Linked DNA regions of Homo sapiens: region 2 is linked to region 1. A link means that fine-mapping ties the variant in region 1 to the expression of a gene that starts in the linked region. Tissue or cell type: neutrophils. Region 1 holds a variant in brackets; the other region holds the start of a gene. All regions are shown on one strand. Distances are between the middles of the regions.

The links. PIP is the estimated chance that this variant, and not a neighbour inherited with it, causes the effect.
Region 2: it holds the start of GGCX, and the variant in region 1 is fine-mapped to the expression of GGCX in neutrophils (BLUEPRINT, PIP 0.91).

What each region holds. Positions count from the first base shown.
Region 1 is chr2:85,506,579-85,514,681 of GRCh38, forward strand. No RefSeq gene overlaps it. Among named protein-coding and RNA genes, the nearest start is that of PARTICL, 28 kb to the right of the region's middle. RefSeq lists a silencer at 6,770-6,949. The variant C/T (reference allele first, on the strand shown) is at 4,296.
Region 2 is chr2:85,557,136-85,565,229 of GRCh38, forward strand. GGCX (gamma-glutamyl carboxylase) reads right to left here and starts at 4,358. Exons shown (of 15, transcript NM_000821.7): 1 at 4,251-4,358; 2 at 3,680-3,850; 3 at 1,782-1,940; 4 at 1,305-1,470. The coding sequence starts at 4,293. RefSeq lists an enhancer at 4,332-4,561.

The DNA of each region.
Region 1 (8,103 bases):
GAAGGCAATTGGTAAAAATAAAGAGTAGTGTGAGGGCTGTTAGATTATGAGTGATTTGTTTAAATAATCTGTGAATATTGTTACTGCACTGTTTATGCATTTGAAAAGCCTTTTTTTTTTATCCTAACCAGTAGACCACCAGGGATAAAATGATTTTTAAAAATACATAGAGGGCTTTAAGAGTCATTGAAACATTCCACTCTTGGATGTAAGCTCATTAAGTCTTTCTTAGTCAGCAACTACTAGGGAATGGGAACAGGGTGGGTGGGGGGCTTGGCAGTCTTTTAGAGACTTTACTCACGGAATATTTATACACAAATAGCTGAGCAAAGGAGGAAAACTTCTCAAAGTTGATTTTTTTGCCTGCAAACGTTAATTCCGTGGGGAAAGGACAGAAAGATAAACAGTTTAAAATAACCAAATGAAATCATGTGAGCTTGTAAAGATTTTTTTTCTCTCTCTCTCAACAAGGATGGGATGTCCATGAAGTCCTCTCGGAGCTTCCCGGATTTTTTGTGCTCTGAAGCTCCAGCAGTGGGGAGCGGGGCTGAGAGAGGGAGATGGGTGATGTGGCGCCCATCCCTCCAGGCAAGGACTGCCCTGGCACAGCTTTCCTCTTGATTCCCTAACCGCTCTTTACATGTTTATTTTATCTCTATCAGACTATGGGCTCTCACAGATGAAGACCATACTCTTCCTGCAAAACACTCGGTCCCACAGCACATGTAATATCTAAGAGGAACCTGAGAGGTCACTGGTCTAATCCCCTCATCAGACAAAAGAGGACCAGACTCAGAGAGAGAGGCACGTGCCATAGCGACACAGCCAGTTTCTTTGGAGGCCTGGTCTCAGCTCTGGACTGCTCAAGCCTATCCTTGACAGTGGCACTGCTCAGCCTGGACATTTAGAGTGTCCTTCTGATACAAATGTATTGAGTCTCTGCCCCTGAGCTAGAAAGATGGCAAAACAAAGATAAGAAAAGGCCAAAAAACCAAGCTCCCTAACATTAAGGATATTATAATTCAGAGGGAAAGATAGGGCACTCTCACAGACAACTAGAATACAAGCAGAAAGTGAGGATGAGTTGCAAGAGGCATACACCTAGTTGGGAAAGAGCCTGCTGGGGAGATGGACCAAAAAGGGCTCCACTGGGATTAAGCCAGCCCTTGAATGGGGATCAAAATAATGCAAATGAAGTCAGAGGCACTGAATCAGTTCATTTATTTAACAAACACTGACTACCATGTGCCAAACAAGGATCTAGATACTCAGGAAACACATCTCTACTAGCCTCATGGAGCTTACATTCAAAGAAGGGTAGGGGACAGGCACTAAACAAAATATATAAGTAAAAGTAGGTTAGATAGGCTGGTGGGAATGTAAAATGATGCAGCCATTATGGAAAGCAGTATGGTGGTTCCTCAAAAAATTAAACATAAAATTACCACTTGATCCACCAATTCCACTTCTGGGTATATACACAAAAGAATTGGCCGGGTGCAGTGGCTCATACTTGTAATCCCAGCACTTTGGGAGTCCGCGGCGGGCGGATCAGGAGGTCCGGAGTTCAAGACCAGCCTGACCAACATGGTGAAACCCCATCTCTACTAAAAATACAAAAATTAGCTGAGCGTGGTGGCGCACGCCTGTAGTCCCAGCTACTTGGGAGGCTGAGGCAGGAGAATCGCTTGAACCTGGGAGGCGGAGGTTGCAGTGAGCTGAGATCTTACCCCGGCACTCCAGCCTGGACAACAGAGCGAGATTCCATCTCAAAAAAAAAAGAATTGAAAGCAGGGACTCAAAGAGATATTTGTATACTCATGTTCATAGCAGTATTATTCACAATAGCCAAAAAGTGGAAGCAACTCAAATGTCCTTTGACAGATGAATGGATAAACAAACTATGGCATATACAGACCATGCAATATTATTCAGTCTTTTTTTTTTTTTTTTTTTTTTTGAGATGGGGTTTTGCTCTTGTTGCCCAGGCTGGAGTGCAATGGCGCAATCTCGGCTCACTGCAACCTCCGGCTCCCAGGTTCAAGCAATTCTCCTGTCTTAGCCTCCAGAGTAGCTGGGATTACAGGCGTGCACCACCACGCCCAGCTAATTTTGTATTTTTAGTAGAGGTGGGGTTTCACCATGTTAGTCAGGGTGGTTCAAACTCCTGACCTCAGGTGATCCACCCGCCTGGGCCTCCCAAAGTGCTGAGATTACAGGCGTGAGCCACCACGCCTGGCTAGTCAATCTTAAAAAAGGAACAGAATTCTGGCTGGACATGGTGACTCATGCCTGTAATCCCAGCACTTTGGGAGGCTGAGGCGGGTGGATCACCTGAGGTCAGGAGTTCAAGACCAGCCTGGTCAACATAGTGAAACCCTGTCTGTACTAAAAATACAAAAATTAGCCACGTGTGGTAGCATGCACCTGTAGTCCCAGCTACTCAGGAGGCTGAGAAAGGACAATTGCTTGAACCTGGGAGGCGGAGGTTGCAGTGAGCCGAGAGATTGCGCTACTGCATTCCAGAATGGGTGACAGAGTGAGACTCCACCTTAAAAAAAAAAAAAAAAAAAGGAATGAAATTCTGACACAAGCTACCACATGGATAAACCCTCAAAGACACTGTGCTAAGTGAAATAAACCAGACATAAAAGGACAAAGATTGGCCAGGCTTGGTGGCTGGCCGGGCGCAGTGGCTCATGCCTGTAATCCCAGCACTTTGGGAGGCTGAGGCGGGCAGATCGCCTGAGGTCAGGAGTTCGAGACCAGCCTGGCTAACATGGTGAAACCTCGTCTCTACAAAAATTAGCAAGGTGTGGTGGCAGGTGCCTGTGATACCAGCTACTTGGGAGGCTGAGGCAGGAGAATCGCTTGAACCCAAGAGGCGGAGGTTGCAGTGACCCAAGATCGCACCACTGCACTCCAACCTGGGCGACAGAGCAAGAATCCATCTCAAAAAAAAAAAAAAAAAAAGAGAGAGAGAGAAAGATCCTAGTGTTACAGTTACATGAGGCACCTAGTGTAGTCAAATTCATAGAGACAGAAAGTAGAATGGTGGTTACCAAGGGCTGGGGGGAGTGGGGAATGGGGAGGTAGCGTTCAAAGAGTATAGAGCTTCAACAGTTGAGGAAGATGCAAAAGGTCTGGAGATGGATAGTGGTGATGGTTGCACAACAATGTGAATGTAATTAATGCCACCGAACTGAAAACTTACAAACTATTAAAATGGTAATTTTTGTGTGGTGTATATTTTACCACAGTGAAATAAGTAAATAAAATAATAGGGAAGGGAGTAGGTTAGATGGTTTAAGTGTTACAGGAAAAAAATGAATAAATCAGGGAAGAGGGATGGGGTACCGGAGTGAAGCATCAATGTTAAACAGGGCATCCAGGGTGGCCAGGGAAAGTCTCACTGAGAAAGCAGCATATGAATAAAGATCTGAAGGAGGTGAGGGAGTGAGCCATATACGGCAATCTGGGGGAAGAGTGGTCCAAACAGAGGAATCAGCAAGTGCAAAATTCCTGAGGCAGGAATGGCAATAGGGCCACTGTGCTAGAGCCATTTTCTTTATTTTATTTTATTTATTTATTTATTTATTTATTTATTTATTTATTTATTTATTTTTGAGACGGAGTCTCGCACTGTAGCCCAGGCTGGAGGGCAGTAGCAGGATCTCGGCTCACTGCAAGCTCCGCCTCCCGGGTTCACCCCATTCTCCTGCCTCAGCCTCCGAAGCAGCTGGGACTACAGGCGCCCGCCGCCACGCTCGGCTAACTTTTTTGTATTTTTAGTAGAGACAGGGTTTCCCCATGTTACCAGGATGGTCTCGATCTCCTGACCTTGTGATCCGCCCACCTCGGCTTCCCAGGGTGCTGGGATTACAGGCGTGAGCCACCGCGCCAGGCCATTTTATTTTATTTTATTTTATTTTATTTTATTTTATTTTATTTTATTTTATTTTATTTTTTAGATGAAGTCTTGCTCTATCGCCAGGCTAGAGTGCAGTGGTGTGATCTCGGCTCACTGCAACCTCCGCCTCCCGGGTTCAAGCGATTCTCCTGCCTCAGCCTCCCGAGTAGCTGGGATTACAAGCATGTGTCACCATGCATGGCTAATTTTGTATTTTTAGTAGAGACAGGGTTTCTCTAGGTTGGTCTTGTCTCAAACTCCTGACCTCAGGTGATCCACCCACCTCGGCCTCCCAAAGTGCTGGGATTACAGCACTTCACCATGTTGGCCAGGATGGTCTCGATCTCTCGACCTCGTGATCCGCCCACCTCGGCCTCCCAAAGTG[C/T]TGGGATTACAGGCGTGAGCCACCACGCCCGGCCAACTCTGTGCCTCTTTGATCAATTCCAGTGGTACCAGGTAAACTGCTTATGAGTGAAATTTAGAAAAACCTCCCCCAGCAGTGGGGGAAAATGCACAGTGCATAAGGCCTTATTTGGGTGAGGAGTTGGGGGAGTGAATGTATTAACCTTGTAGTGAAGTCACCTTAGATTCTAGTAGTTATGCTTCTTTCAGGAATATGACCACTCAGACCATAAAAGCTGGATGTGACCATGGTTTCATTTCTTTGGAAATGATTCTGCCAGAACAGGAACTGAGAATTTTTTCTCTGTGACCTCTGGGTGAGTTTGTGTTCCATGAGAACATTGGGCTTTGCATTTCTCAGTACACTGCTCTCATAGCTCTTGGGTTTGGAAGAGGTCACTGTCATCAAACTTTTTATGACTTTAGCCCTCAGAGAACCAAGGATAAAGGTGAATAAAGAACGCATCCAAGGTAGAAAGCTCCAACACCCCCGAGATGTTTACTTTCTATAAAACCTGGAGTCTCATGCCAGAGGGATTATATAAAAATAAAGCCAGGGTAGCCAAGTGCAAACCGTAGAGTTATCAACAGTGCTGTGAGATGAAGTCTTTTGTTCAAGGTCCTTTAATTGCCAGATGCAAAAGATAGTAAAATGGATTCTTTTATTCTTGAAACTTTGCCAGCCTCGTGGCTAATGCCCACTACAGCTGCATTAAAGGCTCTGAGGATCTCTGCCAAGATGTGATGATGGCCAAGAACCAGTGATGACTTCAGGGGACCTTTCTCAACCTGCCAGCCCTGCCATCTTGGCCTAGCCCACAGGCCACTGCCTGACCCAGTCTGATTTATAGCTCCCATGGGATCGCTGTCAAAAAAGGATCCTATGGGATCCTTCCATAGAGGCTAATATTCACAGAACGCTTTAGAAAACGAGCTTAAAGTTTAATGTTGAGGGATGTTGTGGGCCAAAGGGTGGTCCTGAAGGGAACTTCTCTGAAATTCTGTGCTAGGAGCTAGGACTCAGGCACAGTGTTATGTGTCTCAGGCACAGTGTTATGGAAAGAGCATAGGATCAAGGGACAAGAAGTCCGAGATCAGTTTTTTTTTTCAGCTTTATTTCAGTATAACTGGCAAATAACAACTGTACATATTTAAGGTGTACAACTTAACGGTTTTTTTTTTTTGGAGGGGGTGGGGTTGTTTTTTTTTTTTTTCTTTTATTTTGTTTTGAGACAGAGTTTTGCTCTTGTTGCCCAGGCTGGAGTGCAATGGCGCGATCTTGGCTCACTGCAACGTCTGCCTCCCGGATTCCACCAATTCTTGTGCCTCAGCCTCCCGAATAGCTGGGATTACAGGCGCCTGCCACCACACCCGGCTAATTTTTGTATTTTTAGTAGAGATGGGGTTTCACCACATTGGCCAGGTTGGTCTCAAACTCCTGACCTCAGGTGATCCACCCACCTCTGCCTCCCAAAGTGCTGGGATTACAGGCATAAGCCACTGTGCCCAGCCCCTGTTTTTCATTTTTTTAGAGACAGGGCCTCTCTCTGCTGCCCAGGCTGACTGCAGTGGCACAATCTCGGTTACACTGCAAACTCCACCTCCCAGGCTCAAGTGATCCTCCTGCCTCAGCCTCCCAAGTAGCTGGGACTATAGGTGCATGCCCCACACCTGGCTATTTTTTGATTTTTTGTAGAGATGAGGTCTTACTATGTTGCCCAGGCTGGTCTCGAAATCCTAGGCTCAAGTGATCCTCCCACCTCAGCCTTGAAAAGTGCTGGGATTGCAGGCATCAACCATCATGCTGGTCCAACTTAATGTTTTGATATAGGTATACATTATGAAACAATCACAATCAAGACCATTAACATATTCATCACCTCACATAATTATCTATTCATTATTATCATATTATTATTATTATTTTGAGACCGAGTCTTCCTCTGTCACCCATGCTGGAGTGCAGTAGCATGATCTTGGCTCACTGCAGCCTCTATCCCCGGGTTCAAGTGATTCTTGTGCCTCAGCCTCCCAAGTAGCTAGGATGACATGCATGTGCCACCATGCCTGGCTAATTTTTGTATTTTTAGTAGAGTCGAGCTTTCGCTATGTTGCCTAGGCTGGTCTCGAACACCTGGCCTCAAGTGATCCGCCTGCCTCGGCCTTTCAAATTGTTGAGATTACAGGCATGAGCCACCATGCCTGACCTATTATTTTTTATTTTGTTTTGTTTTGCTTTGTTAGAGTCTCACTCTGTCGCCCAGGATGGGGTAAAGTGGTATGATCTCAGCTCACTGTAACCTCTGCCTCCCGGGTTCAAGTGATTCTCCAGCCTTGGTTTCCCAAGTAGCTGGGACTACAGGCGTGCACCACCATGCCCAGCTAATTTTTGTATTTTTTAGTAGAGACGGGGTTTCACTATACGTTGGCCAGGCTGGCCTCGAACTCCTGACCTCAGGTGATCCACCTGCCTCGGCCTCCCAAAGTGCTGGGATTACAGGCATGAGCCACCACGCCCGGCCCTACTATTATTTTTTTAAAGGAAGTCTGAGGTTTACTCATGGATTCACCTCTGTGCTGGATATCTTCTGTTGCCTACTCCATCCGGGAGCCACTCCCTACTCTCTCTCTTCAGTGCCCAGGAGACTGACCTGTGTAGAAACCTCAGCAGGCTCCCTTGCCCTCTGGCTTCCAATAAGGCCAACGAGGGTCTCCTTTAGGGGATCAGAAGGAGGGAGGACAGAGGGGTTGGGTGTTAATTATCCTGAGTTCTTAGACCTAGGAGGTCTCTGTGCACTGACACTGCAGGCCTCTCCAGTTCTGGTGACCTGGCCCTCCTTCCTCCCTCCATGGCAAGCCTATGTAGCTCCCCACAACAACACACTGTCCCTGTGGCTTCCCTGCACCCTGCCCCTATTTTTGTAAAGAGTTCCTTTATTAGGTTCTGCTGAAATTACCCAACTGGAGTGTGCCCTCTGTTTCTTGCCAAGACCCTGACCAATGCAGCCACCAATGAGTCCAGTGACCCTGGTCACACCACTTAGGCCCCGTGGCTTTGGTTTCTTCATCTTTATTTATTTTTAATTTTTTTATTTTTTAAAATTTTATTTTTATTTTTATTATTTTTGGGTTTTTTTGAGATGGAGTCTCGCTCTGTGACCCAGGCTGGAGTGCAGTGGCAAGATCTCGGCTCACTGCAACCTCCACCCTCCAGGTTCAAGTGATTCTCTGGCCTCAGCCTCCCCAGTAGCTGGGATTACAGGCACCTGCCACCATGCCCGGCTAATTTTTGTATTTTTAGTAGAGACGGGGTTTCACCATGTAGGCCAGGCTGCTCTTGAACTCCTGACCTCAAGTGATCTGCCCACCTTGGCCTCCCAAAGTGCTGGGATTACAGGCATGAGCCACCGTGCCCAGCCTAAAATGCCAGTTCTTACACACTTGCTTCACGGGGCTTTCATAAGGATTATAATAGATATAAAGCACTAAACAAACATAATCTTTAAAAAAAAAAACATAATGTGCTTTCTAAGTTTCACAATTCCAGAATGCGTAAAAATAACAAGTTGTCTTTTATATCAAGATGCTGCTGCCAATACGCAACTGCTCAAATATGAACTCTGAGCAGTTTTTCTAAAATTCACGATGGTTTTTATTGAGTACGCAAAAGGCTAAACTAGATTTCACTCTGATAAACATAATGATATTACGTGACCCAATAATATTAAATCCTAAAATCTATCCCAAACCCAGGCAGATAAGACAGCTAAGATAAAAACATTTTTAATATG
Region 2 (8,094 bases), 51 kb after region 1:
AACATAAAATGTGAACAGCACCATCGACCTTACAGGGTTTTAATGAGGAAAAACTCTAAATATTTAGTATAGTGCCTGCGATGTGGAAAACCCTGAATAAATGATAAGTGATTTTTTCAAAATGCATAAAGTCATAAAAATGGAACTTCTGACTAGCCTGAGCAACATAGTGAGATCCCATCTCTACAAAAAATTTTAAAAATTAGCTGAGTGTGGTGGCACACACCTGTTGTTCCAGCTACTCAGGAGGCTGAGATGGAAGGATCACCTAAACACAAGAAGGTTGAGGCTGCAGTGAGCTATGATCACGCCACTGCACTCTAGCCTGGGCGACACAGTGAGATGCCATCTCAACAAATATCCCCACAACGGAACTTTTCAGAGATATTCTATCAAAACTGCCTCTTAATTCTCTATGATCAGAGCTGGCCATTCTGAATGAGTTTCAAGTTTTACCAAAGGGGTTTTGTATGTGTGTATTAACAAATAGGCCGGACACAGTGGCTCATGCCTGTAATCCCAGCACTTTGGGAGGCCGAGGTGGGAGGACTGCTTGAGCCCAGAAGTTCAAGACCAGCCTGGGCAACAAAGCGAGACCCCATCTCTATTTAAAAATAAATAAATAAAAAGAAAAATAAATAAAACTTAATGACTGTTAATGAATTCAATGTTTGAGTTTTTTTCCCCATACTCATGTTATTGACACCTATTTTATTACTTTTCACTCAACATATAAAGAATCCTTAAGGTCAACTGCCCCACCACCTTATCTCCAAATCCCTTCTCCACCTCCCCTTAGAGACAGTCACCTAAGCCAGAAATGGGGAAGGGTTACCTCCTCCGAGAACAGCAATGCTGAGCAGCCCTGGTGGGCCCTCTTCTCCTGACATGATCTCTGCCTCACAGCAACTTCTACTTTTGGCTCTAACTCTGCCCTTCTGGACTCACACAGAGAAAGTCTGCTCCCTCTTCTACATAACCACCCTTAAAGTATCTGAAAACAGCCATGTCTGGCTTTAGTATTCTGTTTTTCTCTCTAAGAGGGTTACAAGAGGTGAATAAATCAAGGCACCTGGGGAGATAGGGAAAGACTGAAGGGGTGGGATGGAGCCATTTTGCTTTGTGTCATCCCAAGCGCTCCAACTAGTTGGCCCTTTCCCCTCCCAAATCCACCTAGATCAAAGTGACCTTGTAACCATACTTTGCAAACATGACTGAAAAATTCCAGAACCTCACTGGGCCCCTATCTCTGATAACCATCCTGACCCAGCCAACCCCTCCCCTTTGTCCCCCCTGACTCATACCAGTAGTGGTTTGCATCCATGAATGTTAGCTGAAAGGCCAACAACCCATACAGATAGGAGTGGTTGTTCCATGATGTCTTGTCCAGGAGAAACACATACCAGTATGGCAGCAGGAATAACACACAGCTTATCCGGTAGCACAGGCCCAGCATCATGCCCAGTGCCCCTGGGATTTGTAGGGAGAGGATTAAGAGGTCAAGAGATCACCACAGGCCCAGTTTCCCTGGACCAGGATATGGTTGGAATTAAGAAAAATCAAGCATTGTATAATCACATAAAACTAAATGAAAATTAAATGTTATTTTAATATTTTAAAAAGAATTATGGGATCACAGCTTAAGTGACACACAGGTCAACAGCATGAAATTGATCACAGCAGAAGTGAAATAAGGTGCCAAAGACTTTGACCATTCACCAGCATGCTTCTATTTCTGTGTTTCTGGCAGGCCAGTCAATATTTCCCACAGTTCCCCTCACCCAGAAACATGATGGTGTAGACAAGATACATCCAGTCAAGTGGCAGTGGGCGTAGGGCATCCAGCAAGGGGAAGCGGCACACATCCAGCCCATCAAGGTATTTCCGGTCCAGAGAGCTGAGCCCCCGCTCCTGGGGAATGTCTAGCACCATCAAGAACCCTAAGAAGGCAATAGGGGAGTTGGTCATTGGGCCTCAGCTAAGGAAGCAGTAGAATACAGTGGAACACAGTTGACAGTGTGCAGCTCCAGGGTCAGACTTCTTTTCTAATCTTGGCTCTGCCATTTATTCAGTATTAATTATTGAGTGCCTACTCTGCACAGTACTACATCTGTTGTGCCATCTAGAACAGCCCCTGCAGCTCGGTTAACCAATTCCCCATTTGTGAGAAGGGGAATACATCACAGGACTACAGAGAGGATTAAATTACAGAAATGCACAAAATGCTATAAAAACTGTTAGGGTCTTGACAGCTATAAAGATCCATCCTATTGAGCTTCAGAAAGTGCTCTGGGAGGCCAGGCACGGTGGCTCACGCCTGTAATCCCAGCACTTTAGGAGGCTGAGGTGGGCAGATCACCTGAGGTTGGGAGTTCGAAACCAGCCTGACCAACATGGAAAAACCCCGTCTCTACTTAAAATACAAAAAAATTAGCCAGGTGTGGTGGCGCATGCCTGTAATCCCAGCTACTCGGGAAGCTGAAGCAGGAGAATCACTTGAACCTGGGAGGCGGAGGTTGCAGTGAGCCGAGATCACACCATTGCACTCCAGCCTGGGCAACAAGATCGAAACTCCGTCTCAAAAAAAGAAAGAAAGAAAGAAAGAAAGTGCTCTGGGAGTGCTTCTCAACCTTTTCTGCTTCCTGGCACACTCCAAAAACAGTTGCATTTCGTCAACACCCTGGGAATAAACAGAAGAGGCTACTCAGATCAGGAAGCCAGCTTGAGATAAAGCAGGGTTTCTCAACTTCAGGACTAGTCACATTTTGGGCTGGTTAATTATTTATTGAGGGGATTATCCAATGCACTACAGGACATTTAGGAGCACTCCCTGACCTCTATAGAGATGCCAGCAGCCACCTATTCTTCCTCCCCCAAGTTGTGACAACTAAAAATGTCTCTAAACATTGCCAAATGTCTCCCAGGGAGCAAAACTCCCTCCAGTTGAGAACTACTGGGCTAAGGGGACTAATATCTCTGCACATCTGTAAACCATTCCAAGCACACCATGCTGCGGCCTCAGTTAAGAAGCTCTTGATTAGGGAGTCACAGCCAAAAGGTATGGTCCCTGTGGCCCCCTGCTCTGTTTCTCTGAGTCTTCTGGGCAACTTCATGCCACAAGCAAAATGGGTCACTGCTGCCTCGCCTCTACATATCATATAGCATTTCTAGCTGGGTACGGTGGCTCACACCTGTAATCCCAGCACTTTGGGAGGCCGAGGCAGGCGGATCACCTGAGGTCAGGAGTTTGAGACCAGCCTGGCCAACATGGTGAAACCCCGTCTCTACTAAAAACACACATACAAAAAAAATAAAAAATTAGCCGGGTGTGGTGGTGGGCGCCTGTAATCCCAGCTACTCGGGAGACTGAGGGAGGAGAATCGCTTTAACCCGGGTGGCGGAGGTTACAGTGAGCCGAGATAGCGCCATTGCACTCCAGCTTGGGCAACAAGAGCGAAAGTCCGTCTAAGGAAAAAAAAAAAAGCATTTCTGGCCACCAAGTAAATCCTAACTGTAGGAGACAAAGCAGGTTTAATCCTAAACTTCGCAAAGACCTCTTCTTTTATACCAATGTCTTCAGCTCTGAGGAAAAGGGAGCTAAGTCTACTTGCAACCAAAAAATAGAGATTGTCATTCTCCACTCTCAACCAAATTGCTCCCACCCATAAACTGGACTCACCAAAAAGAAAACGAAAGACAGCTAAGCTTGCAGGGTCCGTTGGTCGATTCAGCAGGGTCACCAGCCTCCGCCAACTGGACAAATCTGTCCACTCAAAACCCAAGAGTTTCCCTATTCGGCTGTCCTGCCTGGGCCCTGAGATCAGTTCAGCCTTGTCTTTCTGTACTTTATCTGCAATCAATAAATGGAGAAAATATGTGTGCGGGGGTGGGCTCCACCTCAAATCAAAGAAATCACTGCACCAACAGCTCAGAGCTTCCGCCCACCCGGGTCGGCTCAATGAGGTTGCCTCAATGATCTGACTATAGGAAACATCCCTGCAGTGCAGCCCCCTCTCCACGATCCCCTAATGTCCCAGAACCCCTCAGACTACAGTCCCCTAACCGCAGTGTTCCCGAATGTCATCATCATTCAGAAGCCGCAGGCTGCAAATGTCTCACAGCACGCCCCCTTCCCCACAGAGGACCCCCCCCCCGCCTCACCGGGAGACACTGGGCGTCCTCCCGCCCCCGCCCCTCTGAGACCAGCGCTCCTAGGAACTCTCCGCCGGAGGGCGGGGTCCTAAGCCTACCTGAGCTGGGCGAGGTCCGCGCGGACCCGGCAGACACCGCCATTGCTCTGCGGAGGAGGCAGGTGGGTCACAGCTGCCGCGTCTGAACGGAGGCCGCCAGGAGAATTTGCTTCCCTAGGCTCCGCCTCCCGACGCGTCAGCGGCTGTGCGGCCGGCCGCAAAGCGCCAGCACTGTCGTAAATACTACCCACGACCGGCGGCGCCGGATTCCTTGCTTGGCGGCAGGGGGCGGAACAAGGAGCCTTGGAGCGGGGCAAAGGTACCCCTTAGTGCCGTTGATCTCCAGGGGCATTGTTAGACTCGCCTGTTATGCCTTCCGAGGGGGCCTCTGCTTTTTAAACACTGAAAAGAGTCTGAGTTCCCCAACTTCCTTGGGTCCTCCCCGACCCCATTAGTCCTCTCCGTCCCTGCGTCCCTGCGGTGCTCTCTGGTGTGAGGGATCGGGCGCAAAGGGCAAACTTTTTGTCAGAGTGACGCCGAGTTGAGGACGCGCCTGGAAATGTTGCCTGGGTTTTGAGCCATTGCACGACCCCTTCACTTTCTTTTCCAGGACCTGCAAAGAACCGAGGTTTCAAAGCAGTAGGGGCCGGGCACTGCTCTCGCTTGTAATCCCAACAGTTTGGAAGGCCAATGCGGGAGGATCGATAAAGAAAAAAAAAAAAGGCAACAACAAAAAAAGAAAAAACACTAAAAAAAAAGTTAGCTGTGTGTCGTGGCGCGCTCCTGTGGTTTCAGCTACTCGGGAGGCTGAGGTGGGAGGTTCGCTTGAGCCCAGTAGTTCGAGGCTGCAGGGAGCTGTGATCGCACCACTGCACTCCAGCCTGGGGGACACAGTGAGACCCCGTCTCAAAAAAAAAAAAAAAAAAAAACAAGCCGGGTGCGGCAGCAAGCCTGTAATCCCAGCACTTTGAGAGGCCAAGGCGGGCGGATCACTTGAAGTCAGGAGTTAAAGACCAGCCTGGCCAACATGGTGAAACCCCGTCTGTACTAAAAATACAAAAATAATCCGGGCATGGTGGCGTGCGCCTGTAATCCCAGCTACTCGGGAGGCTGAGGCAGGAGAATCGCTTGAACCTAGGAGGCGGAGGTTGCAGTGAGCCAAGATCGCGCTACTGCACTCCAGCCTGGGCGACAGAGTGAGACTCCGTCTCAAAAAACAAAAAACGAAAAAGAAAGAGAAAGAAAAGAAAAGGCGGGAAGAAAAGAAAGAAAGAAAATTAAAAGCAGCCAGGGAAACAGGAACAACATAACTGAAGAGGGGATACAGAGCAAGGGCAGTGAGTAGAGTGTGGCCCATCAGGGAAGGTTCTCAGAGGTGAGTCTGGAGCAGAATTAAATACCTAAATCTCTCCACTGGGATTAGCCAGCAGGAAAAGAAGAAGGCATCCCAGAGAAGCGGTTCTCAAACAGTTGGGTCTTGGGAACCATTTACAGTGTTAGAAATTATAGAAGACCCTAAAAGCTTTGTTTATGTGGATTATATCTTTCAATATTTGCCGTATTAGAAATTTTTTTGGCCGGGCGCGGTGGCTCACGCCTGTAATCCCAGCACTTTGGGAGGACGAGGCGAGTGGATCACGAGGTCAGGAGATCGAGACCATCCTGGCTAACACGGTGAAACCCCGTCTCTACTAAAAATACAAAAAATTATCCGGGCGTGGTGGCAGGCGCCTGCAGTCCCAGCTACTCGAGAGGCTGAGGCAGGAGAATGGCGTGAACCCAGGAGGTAGAGCTTGCAGTGAGCCGAGATCGCACCACTGCCCTCCAGCCTGGGCGACAGAGCAAGACGCCGTCCTGAAAAAAAAAATTTTTTTTTTTGAGGCCAGGCGCGGTGGCTCACGCCTGTAATTCCAGCACTTTGGGAGGCCGAGGCGGTTGGATCACTTAAGGTCAGCAATTTGAAATCAGCCTCGCCAACATGGTAAAACCCCGTCTCTACTAAAAATACAAAAAAAATGAGCCGGGTGTGGTGGCAGGCGTCTATAATCCCAGCTACTCAGAAGGCTGAGACAGGAGAATCACTTGTACCCGGGAGGTGGAGGTTGCAGTGATCCAAGATCGAACCACTGCACTCCAGCCTGGGTGACAGAGTAAGACTCTGTCTCAAAAAAAAAAAAAAAAAAAAAAGGCCGGGCACGGTGGCTCACACCTGTAATCCCAGCACTTTGGGAGGCTGAGGCAGGTGGATCACAAAGTCAGGAGTTCGAGACCAGCTTGACCAATACGGTGAAACCCCGTCTTTACTAAAAATACAAAAATTAGCCGGGTGTGGTGGCACGTGCCTGTAATCCCACCTACTGGGGAGGCTGAGGCAGGAGAATCGGTTGAACCCGGGAGGCAGAGGTTGCAGTGATCCCAGATTGCGCCACTGTACTCCAGCCAGGGTGAAAGAGCAAGACTCCATCTCAAAAAAAAAAAAAAGCTTTCTAACTTCTACTACAAAGGAAAAAAAATGGCATGTTTCTGTAGTCTCAGCTATTCCCAGCTTTTCTGGAGGCTGAAGCAAGACAATCACTTTAGTTCAGGAGTTTAAGACTAGCCGGGGCAACATAATGGGATCCATCTCAAGGAAAAAAAAAAAAAGCTATCAAGCCATTAGAAAACATGGAGGAACCTTAAATTCATATTGCTAAGCGAAAGAAATCAATGTGGAAAGACTACAAACTATGATTCCATCCATATGACATATATATATGTATTTTTTTGAGTCAAGGTCTTGCTATGTTGCCCAAGATGGTCTTAAACTTCTGGTCTCAAGCAATCCTCCTGCTCAGCCTTCCAAAGTGCTGGGATTACAGGCATGAGGCAGTGCGTTTGGCCCCAACTGTATGATATTCTGAAAAGGCTAAACTATGGAGATAATAAAAAGATCAGTGACTGCCAGGGAAGTGGAGTTGGGGGGAGGAAGGGATGGTAGGTGGAGCACAGGGGAGTTTTACAGAAGTGAAACTATTTTGTATGATGTAATAGTGTCATGGTGGATACATGTCATACTTGTGTGTGGAAAAGAGTAAAGCCTAATGTAACTTATGGACTTAGTTAATTATAATGTATCAATATGGACTATGTTTTTTTGTTTGTTTGTTTTTTGAGACGGAGTTTCCCCCTTGTTGCCCAGGCTGGAGTGCAATGATGCGATCTCGGCTCACTGCAACCTCTGCCTCCCAGTTTCAAGCGATTCTCCTGCCTCAGCCTCCTGAGTAGCTGGGATTACAGGCACCCGCTTCCACGCCCAGCTAATTTTTTGTATTTTTAGTAGAGATGGGTTTTCACTATGTTGACCAGGCTGGTCTTGAACTCCTGACCTCAGGCGATCCACCCGCCTCGGCCTCCCAAAGTGCTGAGATTACAGGCATGAGCCACCGCGCCCGGCTGGGCTATGTTAATAATATACCAATACTGGCTCATCAGTTGTAACAAATGTACCACACTAATGCAAAAAGTTAATAATAGGAAAAATGGGGAGCCTGAAGGGGGATATGGGAACTCTCGGTACTTTCTTCTTCTTCTTTTTTTTTTTTTCTTTTCTTTTTTTTGAGACAGAGTCTCCCTCTGTCGCCTAGGCTGGAGGGGCAGTGTCACAATCTTGACTCACTGCAGCCTTGTCCTTCTGGGCTCAAGTGATCCTTCAACCTCAGCCTCCCAAGTAGCTGGACTACAGGCGTGCACCACTGTGCCTGGCTAATTTTTTTTATTTTTTGTAGAGACGGGGTTTCACCATCTTGCCCAGCCTGGTCTCAAACTCCTGAGCTCAAGTGATCCTCCCTCCTTGGCCTCCGACAGTGCTGGGATTAAAGGCTTGAGCCATTACTCCCAGCCTGGAATTCTCTGTACTTTCTGCTCA